4 linked regions of the Homo sapiens genome follow. The protein of the gene in region 1 purifies or fractionates together with the protein of each later gene. This does not show direct contact. Each region holds a gene or a part of one and is shown in the gene's direction. Other genes may lie near its edges.

What was found. The genes of interacting proteins can lie anywhere in the genome.
Region 2: the proteins of DUOXA2 (region 1) and CDH11 purify together in Homo sapiens (co-immunoprecipitation; one large-scale study listed by IntAct). This does not show direct contact.
Region 3: the proteins of DUOXA2 (region 1) and TMEM209 purify together in Homo sapiens (affinity purification with mass spectrometry; one large-scale study listed by BioGRID and IntAct). This does not show direct contact.
Region 4: the proteins of DUOXA2 (region 1) and GRAMD1A purify together in Homo sapiens (co-immunoprecipitation; one large-scale study listed by IntAct). This does not show direct contact.

The regions. Positions count from the first base shown.
Region 1 is NC_000015.10:45,112,855-45,117,125, forward strand, and holds the start of DUOXA2 (dual oxidase maturation factor 2), read left to right. Parts: upstream 1-1,471; 5' UTR 1,472-1,751; coding exon 1,752-1,898; intron 1,899-2,944; coding exon 2,945-3,002; intron 3,003-3,269; coding exon 3,270-3,404; intron 3,405-3,610; coding exon of another isoform or gene 3,611-3,661; coding exon 3,662-3,875; intron 3,876-4,236; coding exon 4,237-4,271. Other genes in the region: DUOX2 (dual oxidase 2 isoform 2 precursor), read right to left, coding at 133-222, 488-557. UniProt on the Homo sapiens protein: Required for the maturation and the transport from the endoplasmic reticulum to the plasma membrane of functional DUOX2. May play a role in thyroid hormone synthesis.
Region 2 is NC_000016.10:64,944,064-64,947,563, reverse strand, and holds part of CDH11 (cadherin-11 isoform 1 preproprotein), read left to right. Parts: 3' UTR 1-3,500. UniProt on the Homo sapiens protein: Cadherins are calcium-dependent cell adhesion proteins. They preferentially interact with themselves in a homophilic manner in connecting cells; cadherins may thus contribute to the sorting of heterogeneous cell types.
Region 3 is NC_000007.14:130,170,907-130,174,406, reverse strand, and holds part of TMEM209 (transmembrane protein 209), read left to right. Parts: intron 1-467; coding exon 468-582; intron 583-677; coding exon 678-775; intron 776-3,500. UniProt on the Homo sapiens protein: Nuclear envelope protein which in association with NUP205, may be involved in nuclear transport of various nuclear proteins in addition to MYC.
Region 4 is NC_000019.10:35,020,823-35,024,322, forward strand, and holds part of GRAMD1A (protein Aster-A), read left to right. Parts: intron 1-679; coding exon 680-783; intron 784-868; coding exon 869-1,042; intron 1,043-1,128; coding exon 1,129-1,216; intron 1,217-2,077; coding exon 2,078-2,089; intron 2,090-2,413; coding exon 2,414-2,521; intron 2,522-2,604; coding exon 2,605-2,725; intron 2,726-2,874; coding exon of another isoform or gene 2,875-2,919; exon of another isoform or gene 2,920-2,963; intron 2,964-3,500. UniProt on the Homo sapiens protein: Cholesterol transporter that mediates non-vesicular transport of cholesterol from the plasma membrane (PM) to the endoplasmic reticulum (ER).

The DNA.
Region 1 (4,271 bases):
CGCATAAGATTGCGCTGTGTAGGCAGCGGAGCTGCTGGGCGCGTGTTCCCCGCAGATTCCCCGCTCAGGGCCTTTCGCGCCCCGGCCCTTCGCGAGCCACGGCCCCAGCACGCCCGGGCCCCCAGAACGCACCAACAGCACCACGCTCGTGGTGCCTCAGGTTGTTAAACCAGCCGTCATAGCGCTGCACTTCCCAGGGCAGTGAGAGTGCGTCCTGACTGCCTGTGGGCACAGAGAAGGGCCTCCTCAGCACTACGCTCCCAGCTACCCCTCCCGAGCAACGAAGGCCTTGGCCAGTCCTTCCCCAGCTCGCGGAGCGCCCCTAACCGGACCCAAGTGTCGGGCCGCACTGGGAAGTTTCCCATCCCGCTGAGCTGCACGGCGAAATGACCTTCCAGTCTCAGGGAGCCGCTTGCCGCACCTCTCCCCGCCCCACCTCCCAGGGATCCTGGGGAACACCCCGCCGCTAGAGGAGCCTGATACTTGCCCGATGGACCCAGGGATCCAGTCAGAAGAGCTCCCAGGAGCATCAGTGCCTCTGGTCTTGCACGGAGCATGCCAACCCTGCAGCCTGCGGGGTGAGGGTGGGGGTGGTAGGTGGTATGCGAAAGCCACTGTTAGGGCGTCCTCTATGCCTCCCCTCTTGTTCCTACAGCTAGTACTGGAGGAGGAGCACCAGCTGTTTCCACTTCTGGAAGGTAGCTGTTAGAAGCATCACCGAGGACCTTCATCCAAACGCCACTCTTTCCAGGACAATTGGCAGCTCTGGAGGCATTGACACTGTTCCCCATCCGCCACCCCATCAGAGAGTTAACCCCCGACCATAGGAACCCACTGGGCAGGAGTCTTCTGGGGCATGTCAGTCCAGGGCAGGACTGGTCAAGCCTCCCAGGGTGTGCCCAATGTCTCCAATGTTTCACCTCCACCCGCCCCCGATCCGTCAGGCTCCGCTTCTCCTCCAGGAGGCAGGGAAGGGAAAAAGGTTACTGACCTGGGAGTGAGGGACTGCAGCACCCTTCCACAATGAATCCCCCCTTCCCCAATAAACTCCCCTTCTGCAATGAACGCCTGTGCATGATGGGCGAGGGCTAGGGTCAGATCCCAAACTCTGGTCTAACCTGTGGTTTAGGGTGGTGTTGGGTTCAGATGTCTTCTTTCCTCTTAAAATCTTTGCTTCTGTGCTCTACTTCTTGCCTTCACCCTCACTCTTCCAGCTCCGCCGATCCTCAGCCTCCCCGGCTGCACTCTCACCTTTCTCTCTGGGTCCTTGGTCTCGCCACTGTGCAGGTGTCGGCTCAGGACAGACCTGCGCCAGTGTGAGCATCTGGACCTAGGGCTCACCCTCCTGCCGTGGAGGTGGGGCCCTTATTTGCACAACCTCTTCCAGCTCAGACCAGCCCCTGGGCTGGGACACCCGTGTGGCACGTCGCCCACGCTGCTATAAAAGGGGTCCCGCGCGACTTCCAAACTCAGCGCCAACCCGCAGAACCAGGAAAGTAACGGCTACAGACAGTGAGAAATAGTTTCGCTCGCCGGCTAGAAAAACTCTGTCGGTACCAACCCCAGAGCGTTGAGAGCAGCCCACCTCCACGCTTCCTTAACGGAGAGGTGCAGGACTCAGACTTCACCAGCCCACTCGGTCCCAGCCTTGTACGCAAAGAGACGCCAAGGACGCGCTCTCCCGCGTCCAGGCAGCCCCAGCTTGCTGGCTTGCCTGCCCGCCTGCGTGCAGCACTCGGCCGGCGTGCAGCATGACCCTGTGGAACGGCGTACTGCCTTTTTACCCCCAGCCCCGGCATGCCGCAGGCTTCAGCGTTCCACTGCTCATCGTTATTCTAGTGTTTTTGGCTCTAGCAGCAAGCTTCCTGCTCATCTTGCCGGGGATCCGTGGCCACTCGGTAAGGGTGTCCTCATAGTGCAGGTAGAGTGGGGGAAGGCTCATGGGCAGATTGTCTCCTGAGGGACCCAGGACAGGTAAGACTGTACAAGAGCCTCCATGAATAGTCGAATTGAGGCTCAGGTGGAGTGAAGTCAGGAGTCTGGTGCAGCAAGCACCCCTTTCCAAGGATAGGGAGAGCTCCCCATCCAGGATATCCTGGAGAAGGACCCCAGCTGGGTCCTTGGGAAGGCTGCTGCAGAGAATGGGCACCCAGTCCAGTAATCCTGAGGAACAGTCTAGGCTTCTTGTGCTGGAGGGCCTCCCACCTCTCCCAGGACTAAAGCTGCACTCTCATCCCATCCGGTGGGTGATGACCTTCAGGCCAAAAGGACAGATGCCAGCAGCTCAGACTGCAGTGTTCCCCTTTGCACTGGGTTGAGACACATGTGTATGGGTGCCTCATCCTCAGGACTGAGACTCCCACATTGGATTAGAAGTTGGAGCCAACTGGGTGCATTGTCTTAGACTTTCCCCCTCTCCCAGAACCTAGGTTGTGCATTTTTCAGTTCTGGGAGGACCCAGCTTTTCTGCATCTTAATCTGTGTTGCTTTCCCTGGAACTGGTGCACCTAGGAGTATCTGCATTCCCACCTCCTCCCCTCGGAGATCAGGCTGGGGCCTCCCTCTTCTGAGGGAGGTGACCCCTGCGTGCCTAGCACTTCTGGACTCACTGAGCCTCACCAAGCAGTGACTGGACCAGGAGGCAGAACCAGGACCAGGCGCCAGACAGCTAGGGGAGTGAAGGTGGTGGAAGAGTGCCAGGAAGTGGGGGTGGAGGGGAGGTGCTGTTAGGGTAGATGGGAAATGGGGCTAGGGAGGTGAAAGTGCGTGGTCACAAAATATCAGAAATGCCAGTAGCCCAGAGGGACTTGCAGGAAAAGCGTGCCTAACATTAGTCTCAAAAGTCTGGATATAACTAAAGATCCAGGTGAAGTGGGGTCAAGGGTGGTCTTGGGGACTCTGGTTTGGCAGGGCTCAGGCCTGACCCGGGTGCCTATTCCTGCAGCGCTGGTTTTGGTTGGTGAGAGTTCTTCTCAGTCTGTTCATAGGCGCAGAAATTGTGGGTGAGTGTGTGGTGCAGCCCATGGGGAGAGGACGGGGTGAGGAAGGAGGTGGGCAGAGGGCACCTGGGACAATAGGGAACTGGGGTTGGTTTTCTGCTCCCTCTTCCCACTCTCCAGCTCCTTCTAGGGCCCACTTTTTGGCCCTTACCATGCAACCACATTGGACCTCTAAGTCCCCATCTCTCTGCAGTGTCCCACCTCCCATACCACTCTCTAATTCCATTTTCCCACCCTCATCCCACCCCCACCGTGTGCCTTTCCCTACAGCTGTGCACTTCAGTGCAGAATGGTTCGTGGGTACAGTGAACACCAACACATCCTACAAAGCCTTCAGCGCAGCGCGCGTTACAGCCCGTGTCCGTCTGCTCGTGGGCCTGGAGGGCATTAATATTACACTCACAGGTGAGGGGGCTGGGGCTAAATGAACTCCTGGAGCTGGGAGATCCCCGGTTAGGTGAGTGTGTCAGGGATAGCTGGAGGGCCTCTCACATCCCACAAGCTCAAATAGCTTGTGGTCCTCGTGGATTTGCGTTTTCTCCAACCACCACCGAACCCATTTCTCCCGCCGAGAGCGCCACACCCCCACTTTCCTGTCTGAATCCGCTTAGTTGCGAGGTCTCCGACCGCGGGCAGCCCCATGAGCCCGCCTCACCCCACAGGGACCCCAGTGCATCAGCTGAACGAGACCATTGACTACAACGAGCAGTTCACCTGGCGTCTGAAAGAGAATTACGCCGCGGAGTACGCGAACGCACTGGAGAAGGGGCTGCCGGACCCAGTGCTCTACCTGGCGGAGAAGTTCACACCGAGTAGCCCTTGCGGCCTGTACCACCAGTACCACCTGGCGGGACACTACGCCTCGGCCACGCTATGGTAAGTGCTGGAGGGAAGGCTGTGTGCACGTGTGTGTGTGCCAGGAGCTGGGCCGTATGAGCGGGAGGATGCAGGCCTCGGAGGCGCTGAGCAGCTGCAGCCAGACCCGACGCGCTCGGGGTGGGCATGACAGCCTCGCGGGTTAGAAGATCCACGAGATCTGCACAGACGGAATCCGGAGAGACTCCAGCCACCGCCTGGACCTCAGGAGCCCGCTTCTCCCCCGGGGAATTCCCCTGCACCGCTGCCATCCCAGTCCCTGGCTTTGACGCTGGGGTAGGGATAAAGAAGAGCGCAGCTGTGGGAACCCCGGTGGGCTGGGAGAAGCCCGCTCACAGCGGGTCCCCCCACTCCCCGGCAGGGTGGCGTTCTGCTTCTGGCTCCTCTCCAACGTGC
Region 2 (3,500 bases), on another chromosome or scaffold:
CGTTCTCAAGAATCTAGAAGATGTGTAAACAGGTATTTTTTTAAATCAAGGAAAGGCTCATTTAAAACAGGCAAAGTTTTACAGAGAGGATACATTTAATAAAACTGCGAGGACATCAAAGTGGTAAATACTGTGAAATACCTTTTCTCACAAAAAGGCAAATATTGAAGTTGTTTATCAACTTCGCTAGAAAAAAAAAACACTTGGCATACAAAATATTTAAGTGAAGGAGAAGTCTAACGCTGAACTGACAATGAAGGGAAATTGTTTATGTGTTATGAACATCCAAGTCTTTCTTCTTTTTTAAGTTGTCAAAGAAGCTTCCACAAAATTAGAAAGGACAACAGTTCTGAGCTGTAATTTCGCCTTAAACTCTGGACACTCTATATGTAGTGCATTTTTAAACTTGAAATATATAATATTCAGCCAGCTTAAACCCATACAATGTATGTACAATACAATGTACAATTATGTCTCTTGAGCATCAATCTTGTTACTGCTGATTCTTGTAAATCTTTTTGCTTCTACTTTCATCTTAAACTAATACGTGCCAGATATAACTGTCTTGTTTCAGTGAGAGACGCCCTATTTCTATGTCATTTTTAATGTATCTATTTGTACAATTTTAAAGTTCTTATTTTAGTATACGTATAAATATCAGTATTCTGACATGTAAGAAAATGTTACGGCATCACACTTATATTTTATGAACATTGTACTGTTGCTTTAATATGAGCTTCAATATAAGAAGCAATCTTTGAAATAAAAAAAGATTTTTTTTTAATTCTGGGTTTGATTCTTAACATTGAAACAAACGTTAAGTATTTCTAATGATCCATTTATATTTCTAATTTAATTGTGATCTTTTAATAACCCTATTTATGATCTGTTGTTGTCTGTCTGCTGCTTTTATTGTTTATTTAAAATCAAATATGTTTTACAAATGTTTTTTCAGACAAGATTCTGTAACATCATGTAAAGCTTTTTTGTACATTCTTGGTGTTAACCTCCTGGCTTCTCTTCACACACATCTTCTAAAAAAGAAGGATGTGAAAGAACTAGGTCAGTCTATGACTTTGCAATATGTGTTATATAGTATGCATTTATCTTGTATATCAGTAATTTGATGGTTATGAGAGATGAATCCATGAGGGAATGGAGCTATCAGAACTCTAATGTTCCAGGTATACATTCTATGCCCCACACTGAGCACTGGGGAACTGGGGGACTAGAGTCAAAAATATAAATTTGCCCAGACTCTAATGTTATTCTATTTTTTCTTCTGTTGAACTTACCAGGCTATTGTAAGACTCTTGATAGTTGAAACTGCTTATTTTTCCTCCTGTAATTTTAACTAATTGTAAAATGATGTGGCATTTTATGTTTTAATGAGAATGGGCGATTCATTTAAAAAAGCTTTGTTTAGAATATGCTTGGGGCCGTAAGCTCAGAATGAGGGCAGGGACCATTTTGGATTCTGAGAGTCGATGCCATTTGGTCCAGGAGTGTGTCTACAGTCCCCTGCATTCCAGCTAGTTTCTTGGGGATTGAAACTTATGTGAAGGGCATTTCACCTGTTCAGTTGGGCCAAAGGTCAAAACGTAGCAATACTTGGGGAAAGACCACATAAAGTCACACTGCAAGTGCTTTCCCTCTTTCCCCCTACACACAGGGCACGTGCTTTTTCTTGGATTGCAGACAATTTTTACAGTTTTTTTCTGACTTTATTGTGAAAGTTTGTTTCAAGCATTTCTTGATATCATGTTATGTACTATTTTTATGATTTAGTCAACATGCATACAAAGAAATGTTTTTTATGAAGTGCTCACTTCCATTTTACTTTGCATTGAAATCAAATTGGGCTGAACACTTCAATGGAATACATTTTGTGGACAATGTCACTTTAGAATCTTTCATCTCAGTGAAGGATTACACATTCTCAATACTTCCATAATTGCAGGTTGTGTTCATTTTTTTATATAGTTTTTGTAATCCAAAGAATATTTTGCTAGATTTGCACAGATCTCCAATTGAATTTGCAATGAAGAAATAACTCAAAAGGAATATGAATAGCATTTAAATAAGTATACAGCTGTAAGTAACCCTGTCACCATGGATGATCCTTTTCTCTAGGAATGTATTTGGATTAGAGATGACAACTACATTTTCGCATTTTTATGTTGAAGTCTTTTTTAAAAAGGCTGTTTACTTTTCAGTAGTTAAGAATACTTGTTTTTCTTTTTCTTTTTTTTTTTTTTTTTTACCTTTTATTTTTTCGTTAAGCCTCTATTGTTTGTAGAACACTCTTAGAAACTTGGAAATAAAATGTCTTTCCCAACTAGTGGAGTCCTTTTTCATTTGGAGCACATTGCCTTAAAAGAAGTCTTAATTTAAACGGTCCTTCCTTATTCTAAAGTAATCACTGTTTTATACCATCTATGCAGCTAAAAGAAGGAACATGCTTCTGTTCTTTTCCTCAAGTAATGGTTATTGTTTCTAGTCATCATTCATTCATTGATTCATTCATTAATTCATCAAAATCTTATTTTATAAACCCTGTTCCACTTACTGGAGGATTCAGAATGAATCTTACTACCTTTTCTGACATCTTTTGATAATTCAGCCCTGTACCAAAGTATCCACCTTGTTGTCTTATAATCACCTATTTACCTATTTGCCCTCCTAGAAAATGCAAGAAGATATTTTCTCTCCTTCCAAATTGAAGGAAGAACATAAAAGATATAACAGGAAGGAGATGGTGAGATATAGAGTGTGAGCGGAAATTAGGCCAGCTGTGGCAATTCTGGACAGATCTTGGGTTTAGCTAAGTTATTTCTTTTAGGCCTGGGTTTCTGGGGGTGACAGGGAAGATAAAAGAGTAGTTTATTTGCACCTCTTGGAGAATTGCTTAAAAATATAGAGATCATGGCTCTGTATGTCAGGTGGAACCAGGTCAGGAGTATTTGAAACTGCTCCTGGGTCATTGTGACATATCCTTCACATCTTTTTGAGAAACTTTATAAGACAATGGGGGTGAATGGGGGCTGGGCAGTTGGAGTCTCTGAGCAGAAGAGGGGCAAAATTTATTTGGCAGGCAGTGTGGAGGACAGATTAGGAGCATATAAACCCAGAGGTGTGCCCCAGGAGGGCTTTTGCAAAGGTCAATATGAGATAGAATGAGGGCCTGAAATAATTCAGTAATTTGGAGATGGAGAAGAGGAAAGACTTCTCTGCTCTTGCACTGCCATCAGCCTGGTCTGGGCCATGGTCATCTCTGACCCGGAAGACTGACCCCACCTCTTGGCTCACCCTCTGCCTCCCAACCTCCTCTTCACAAAGAAGCCAGAGGGATACTTTTAACACACAACCCAGATCACATGACTTCGTAACTTAAACCTCTTCACTGGCTTCCCAAAGACTTAAAATGAATTCTGATGCCTTTATTTTATTGCTTTACATGAACAGGGCCCTGCGAACCTCTCCAGTGTCATTCCACTCCA
Region 3 (3,500 bases), on another chromosome or scaffold:
TCCACCCCTACCCTCAACAGATTATGGTAACTTCGTAGGCTGGAGTATTCAAACTTTTTCAATTTGAAAAGGAAACCTTCTCATCAAAATATAGACTGATTTGATGGCAAATATCTTTTTCTATTTTAAATTTTGAGTAGATTATTTGAATTAAGCCTAGCTTCATGTCTTAAACACACTGAATTCCTTTATGATTTAAGAGAGGAATTAGTGAATTCCTTATCTTTGTAGGAAATAATACTTTCAGTTAAAAGAATAGGTGTGCTACCTGAACTATGTGTTTTTATCTTTTTATTCTATAGATTTTATCTTGTAAATCTAACCATTTGACAGCATTTTTCTAATTCACTCTTCAGAGAAAAAATTTTTTAATTGGAATCGTTATAAATACAGATGTTTCTAAAGGGTTCTACATCCATGCTAGATTTTCATGCTGACTTAAAAAAAAATTATTTCTTCATCCTCAGATCATCATGCATGTATTTTGCACCTACCTTGATTCCAGATTACCTCCACATCCGAAGTATCCCGACGGAAAAACTTTTACTTCTCAGCACTTTGTTCAGACACCAAATAAACCAGGTATAAACCTCTCCTAAAAGAATGTGTTGAGATTTTCACACAAAATATCTCTGGGGGTTTGGTTTTTTAATGCAGCATATTGCCTTCCTTTACAGATGTTACAAATGAGAATGTTTTTTGCATTTATCAGAGTGCTATCAACCCTCCCCATTATGAGCTCATCTACCAGCGTCATGTATACAACCTGCCAAAGGTATTTCTATATAGAGAAGATGCTGTTACAGAATGTCTTGGGTGATTTGCTTGGATGATGTTTTTAAAATTATAATCTCATGTTAATAGAAGAAGTAAATTTTTTAAATTGGAAATGTGTTTCCTACATATATATTTCTTACTATAAAAGTAATATGTGCTTAATTTGGGGAAAGTATAAAGAAAAAGAAGGAAAATCACTCATTCCATTACCTGAGGCAGTCATTGTTGATTTTTTGATTGGTATATTGCCTTTTGGTAAATTTCATTTTGGTCTTATGTCTCTTTTTAGAGGCAGAGTCTAGCTCTGTCACCCAGGCTGGAGTGTAGTGGCATGATCATAGCTCATTGTAGCCTTGAACTCATGGGCTCAAGAAGTCCTTCCACCTCAGCCTCCCAAGTAGCTAGGACTACAAGCACGTACTAGTATACCTGGCCAATTTATTTTTTGTAGAGACAGAGTCTCTCCATGTTACTCAGGCTGGTCCTGTGCACCTGGCCCTTTCTTTATATTTTTTATGGGCTAAAATTATTTATGTAGTTTTATATCTGCTTTTAAATATTAGCTTTATAACATAATTTTCCATACTATTAAAAATCTTCATAAAAATTCCTTTTTTTTTTTTTTTTTTTTGAGATAGAGTCTCACTCTGTTACCCAGGCTGGAGTGCAGTGGTGCAATCTTGGCTCACTGCAACCTCTGCCTCCCGGGTTCCAGCAATTCTCCTGCCTCAGCCTCCCAAGTAGCTGGGATTACAGGCACCCGCCACCACACCCGGCTATTTTTTTGTATTTTAGTAGAGATGGGGTTTCACCATGTTGGCCAGGCTGGTCTCAAACTCCTGAGCTCAGGCAGTCTGCCCACCTCGGCCTCCCAAAGTGCTGGGATTACAGGCATAAGCCACCATGCCCGGCCTAAAAATACTTCTTAATGGCTATAAAAAAAACTTCACTAGTATAATTTATTCAACCATTTCTCTACTGTTGTACATTTTCTGTATTTCTTATTTTTTATTATAAATACTACTGAAAAGGTAGAGGCAGGCAGATCACGAAGTCAGGAGATCGAGACCATCCTGGCTAACACAGTGAAACCCTGTCTCTACTAAAAATACAAAAAAAATTATCCGGGCATGGCAGCATGCACCTGTAGTCCCAGCTGCTGAGGAGGCTGAGGCAGGAGAATGGCGTGAACCCAGGAGGCGGAGCTTGCAGTGAGCCGAGATCACGCCACTGCACTCCAGCCTGGGTGGCAGAGCAAGACTCCGTCTCAAAAAAATAAATAAAATAAAATAAATAAATACTGCTGAAAATGTATCTTCATGCATACAGCTATCTGCATTTCTTTAGTCCAGAGTTCTAAAAGTGGAATTCTAGGTCAAAATATTTTTAAGACTTTAAAAATAACATGTTACCAAATTACTTTATAATAAAGGTTATTGTATCAATTTATACTTCCATTAATGTGCTTTACTTTTTTTTTGAGGTAGTCTTGCTGTGTTGCTTAGGCTAGTATCACATTCCTGGGTTCAAGCAATCCTGACTCAGCCTCTTGAGTAGCTAAGATTACAAGCACATACAGATTTTTTACTCTTTTTTTGAGACAGAGTCTTGCTCTGTCACCCAGGCTGGAGTGCAGTGGTGTGATCTCGGCTCACTGCAACCTCCGCCTCCCAGGTTCAAGCGATTCTCCTGCCTCAGCCTCCTGAGTAGCTGGGACTACAGGCGCGTGCCACCACGCTTGGCTAATTTTTTTTGTATTTTTAGTAAGAGACGGGGGTTTTACTGTGTTAGCCAGGATGGTCTTGATCTCCTGACCTCGTGATCCGCCTGCCTTGCCCACCCAAAGTGCTGGGATGATAACAGGCATGAGCTGCCACACTGGTTTTTTACTCTTAATTACAAGCATCAGTTCTGTTGATAACCTTTACAATTATTTTTGTTACCAGCATCTTTACTAAGAAATTTTACATTGGCTATAATAATAAATTGTGCTGTCTATCAGATTCTCAGGAAGAGATGTTAATTTCATTTCTTCAAGTTTAATATTTTAGCTTTGTATGTAAATACTTTGGGCCATTGAAGTTCTTGTGAATATCCATGCCAATCTTTGTTTTTTAACCACCATCTGTTTTTTTTTCCTTGTTCTTACAGTGTAAACATTATCTTTTAAAAATCATACATTCTCTCAGATTCTTGAGTTAAAAACACATTAAATTAGAGTAAGTGGGGAAAAGTTAATCTGTAAATTGAAAATCTAAATTAGGAGCTGTTTTTACAGACCAAAAATTACATATAATAGTTTGATTTTAGAGCTAGCAATATGCTGCCTAGTATTCCCTTGCAGATAAAATAAATTTATATTTAATATGTTATTTGTATGCTAAAGTATATTCTGATATATTTTAAAGTATGACTAAAAGCTTTTTTTATCCCAACACTTGTTTATGCCATTATAGACCATTTTTATATGTGTAGTGTACAGGGGCACCAACCTCAGAATAGCTCTCCAGGCTCTTCCAGACCTTAGTAAGTGTTTCTCCCCATGTGTGAAACACAGTCCCCCAGCTCCCCACCCCCCAGTATGTTACCTTTCTGCTCATCTTTCAGGTTGCAGCTTAAAATACAAAAAAAAAATTAGCCGGGCATGGCGGTGGGCGCCTGTGGTCCCAGCTACTTGGGAGGCTGAGGCAGGAGAATGACGTGAACCCAGGAGATGGAGGTTG
Region 4 (3,500 bases), on another chromosome or scaffold:
CAGACTGCAAAGACAGGTACAGGAGCAGGGAGGCCAGGGAGGAGGCTGCTGGGACATCCAGGCTGGAGGGGACGGAGGCTGAATCAGGGTGAGGAAATGGAGGGGGAAGAGTTTAGATTCTGGAGAGATTTTGCAGGTTTAGCTGACAGGATTTGCTGAGAGATTGGATGTGGCGGTGAGGGAAAGAGAGCTCAAGGAATATCCCGAGGCATTTGGCCCAAATCACTACAACTTCGGAGCTGCCCTTGACCCAGATGGGGGCGGCAGGGAGGAATGGGTTTGGGGAAAGACCAGGAGGTCAGTTTGGGACTCAGCTGTCTATGTTGAGCTGAGCCCATGTGGAGCTGGGGTGCAGCAGCCGAATGGAAGAGGTTCAGGGGCATGGTCTGGTTAAGACGTCAGTCTGTGAGTAGACAGGGCTCAGGCCGCCGGGAGCGTTGCCCAGGTAGTGGGCATGGGTGGAGAAGGACCGAGGGCTGAGTTGGCTGGCATTTGGGCTGGGCGGGTGGTGTATGGGGTATCCAGGGAAGCCATGGGGGGTAGGGAACCCATCTGTTTTGTCTGTGAGTGACAAGGGGCCCTCTCTGAATTAGGGGAAGGAAAAAACTCAGCTTGTGGGACGGGGCAGCCAGGGCTGGAGTCAGACCCTTACCTCCTTCCCCTGATCTCCCAACCCCAGAGTGTCTTCTGAGATCCGCTACCGAAAGCAGCCGTGGAGCCTGGTGAAGTCGCTCATTGAGAAGAACTCGTGGAGCGGCATTGAAGACTATTTCCACCATCTGGGTAGGGACAGAAGGCCGGCTGGGGCGTGGGTTGGGGGATGGCCTGGCCAGGTATGGACATCCAGAGCCCCCTCTCTTTTACGCAGAGCGAGAGCTCGCCAAGGCTGAGAAGCTGTCTCTGGAGGAAGGCGGGAAGGATGCCCGGGGCTTGCTATCCGGCCTGCGGCGGCGGAAGCGGCCCCTGAGCTGGCGGGCTCACGGGGACGGGCCCCAGCACCCAGATCCTGACCCCTGTGCCCGGGCCGGCATTCACACCTCGGGTACGTTCCGTTGGGGCCGGGTTGGGGTAGGCGGAGGATCGGGGGTCCTGGACTGGGCCATCTGACTCCAAGCTGCTCTCCTGCAGGCTCCCTCAGCTCCCGCTTCTCCGAACCATCTGTGGACCAGGGCCCCGGGGCAGGCATCCCCAGTGCCCTGGTTCTCATCAGCATTGTGTGAGTAAGAGACAGGAGCAGTGGCCACACAGGCCTGAACCTGCCTCCTGGCTGTGTGACCTTGGGCAAGTGTGTGGCCTCTTTGAGCTCTCTGCTTAAGTGGGAGCGTGGGTTTGCTCACAGCAAGGATTAGACAAGGCAATGTTTGGGATGTGCCGGTTTGTCATGGAGAAGCCTTCCCTGCTAGAACAGCAGAGCCGGGGGGGGCTATGGGAGATCAGAGGGGCCTGACCTCACCCAAGGATCAAGGGGGGCTTTCTGGAGGAGCAGGCACACAAAGATTCTGGAATTAGGTGCACAGGGAGAGGTGTGCCTAACAAGTGAGGTCATTTATGGACATTATGTTCTCTGTGCCCACTCCTAAGCTGGGCGATGCTGAGGACACCGCAGTGACCTTGAGGAAAAGATAGACCTCACACCAGACCAGAGTGATCCGGGCTGGGATGGGGGAGGTATGGGCAGAGGGGTTGGGGCTGGGAGTGGGGAAGCCCTGGGAGGCCAGCGGCGGCTTCCTCCCAGGCCAGAGGGGGCAGTCAGGATGGGCGTCCTGAGAGAGTGGAGACCGCGTAGGCTAAGGGCTTGGGCAGGGAGAACCCACACTCCTGCCCAGAAGCCTGCAGGAGTTGGCGGGCAGGACGCTGGGAGGAAACAGAAGCAGGATCCCGGGGTTGAGCAGACCCTGCGAGGTGAGGGTCAGGCCAGCTACATGCTCAGCCTCTGAGCCTCAGCTCTCAGCTCTCATCCAGTGAGGGGGCGTGGTGCTCTCAGCCAAGAGCTGCCCCGGGTGAGGAGGGCTGGGGGTGTCGGGGGCAGGCCAGGCGGCGCTCATCTCTCTGTCTCCCCTCACTGCTGCTGCTGCAGGATCTGTGTGAGGTAGGGTCCCGAGTCCTCCCCCTGCCCTCCCCTCCCTGCACCCCACCCCTGCTGCAGCCTCTTCTCCCCACCCCATGCCCCCCAGCTCCCCCAGGGAGGTGGCCTGGCATGGCAGTCAAGGGTATGGGCATCAGACAGACCTGGGTTTGAACACTGACTTCCCTGCTATGGACTGTGCAACCCTAGGCATGTCTCTCATCCTCTCTGAGCCTAATTCTCCTCCTCTGCAATGGGGGATAGAGGTGTCCCTACAAGATGTAGTTGTTTGGGGGTGTTCAGAGCATCTAGACCCCAGGAATCCTGACCTCTGACCCCTGTCCCCAGCCTTATCATCCTCATCGCCCTCAACGTCCTGCTCTTCTACCGCCTCTGGTCCCTGGAAAGGACAGCCCACACCTTTGAGTCCTGGCACAGCCTGGCCCTGGCCAAGGGGTGAGTGGGTAGCCTGGGGAAATGGGGGGGCTTGGGCACATCGGGGGAGGCCAAGGCCCTGCTCAGGCCTGGCATCCCCACAGCAAGTTCCCCCAGACGGCCACAGAGTGGGCCGAGATCCTGGCGCTGCAGAAGCAATTCCACAGCGTGGAGGTGCACAAGTGGAGGCAGATCCTGCGGGCCTCCGTGGAGCTCCTGGATGAGGTAGGAGGCGCCGCTCGGGCAGGGCTCGGGGCTGCGGGGCTGCAGGGTCCTGTGTTGAAACCCCACCGTGCGGCAGGCACTTCCCCTCTCCGGATCTCAGTGTCCTCCTCTGTAAAATGAGGAAGCCGCTCAGAGTCCCCACCCCACAGCATTGCAGGGGAAAGCATGGAAGCATGGATGGAAGACAGAACTGATTGGCTCACGTCCTGGAGAAAAGTCCAGAGGCGTCTCACATTAGGCACGGCCGGGTTTGGTCACTCAATGGCAGTAAGAGTCAGTCTCTCGTGCCCACTCTGCCCTGTGCCCATCTCCAGGGTTGGCTTCATTGGAGGCCACCCTTTTCCCCCCACAGGGGACCACGGAGCTTACTCTCATTGGCTGCTGGGGTCCCAGGCCTACCCCTGACACATCACAACAGCCAGGGCAGGCCACGTGTGGTCCCTCTACCCGCTACCCCACTCTGGGGTAACTAAGGGGTCACATGGTCTGAAGGGGAGAGACTCTCCAAAGGACCTGAGGTCTCATCTCCAAAACGGAGTGGACCCAGACACCCAGTGTAGTTCAGGGACAATGTCTACTCAGACAACCAGGTTCCAATTCCGGTGTGTGACCTCGTGCAAGTGATTTTGCCATGGTGGCCGTGGACTCCTCTGTGCACAGGATAATGACTGATGCTACCTCAAAGACTGTTGTGAGGATGAGACAAGTTGACATTGGGAGTGGTGCCAGGCCTGCAGGAAACACTGGATGTGGGCTGGCTGTCCTGAGTTTGAGC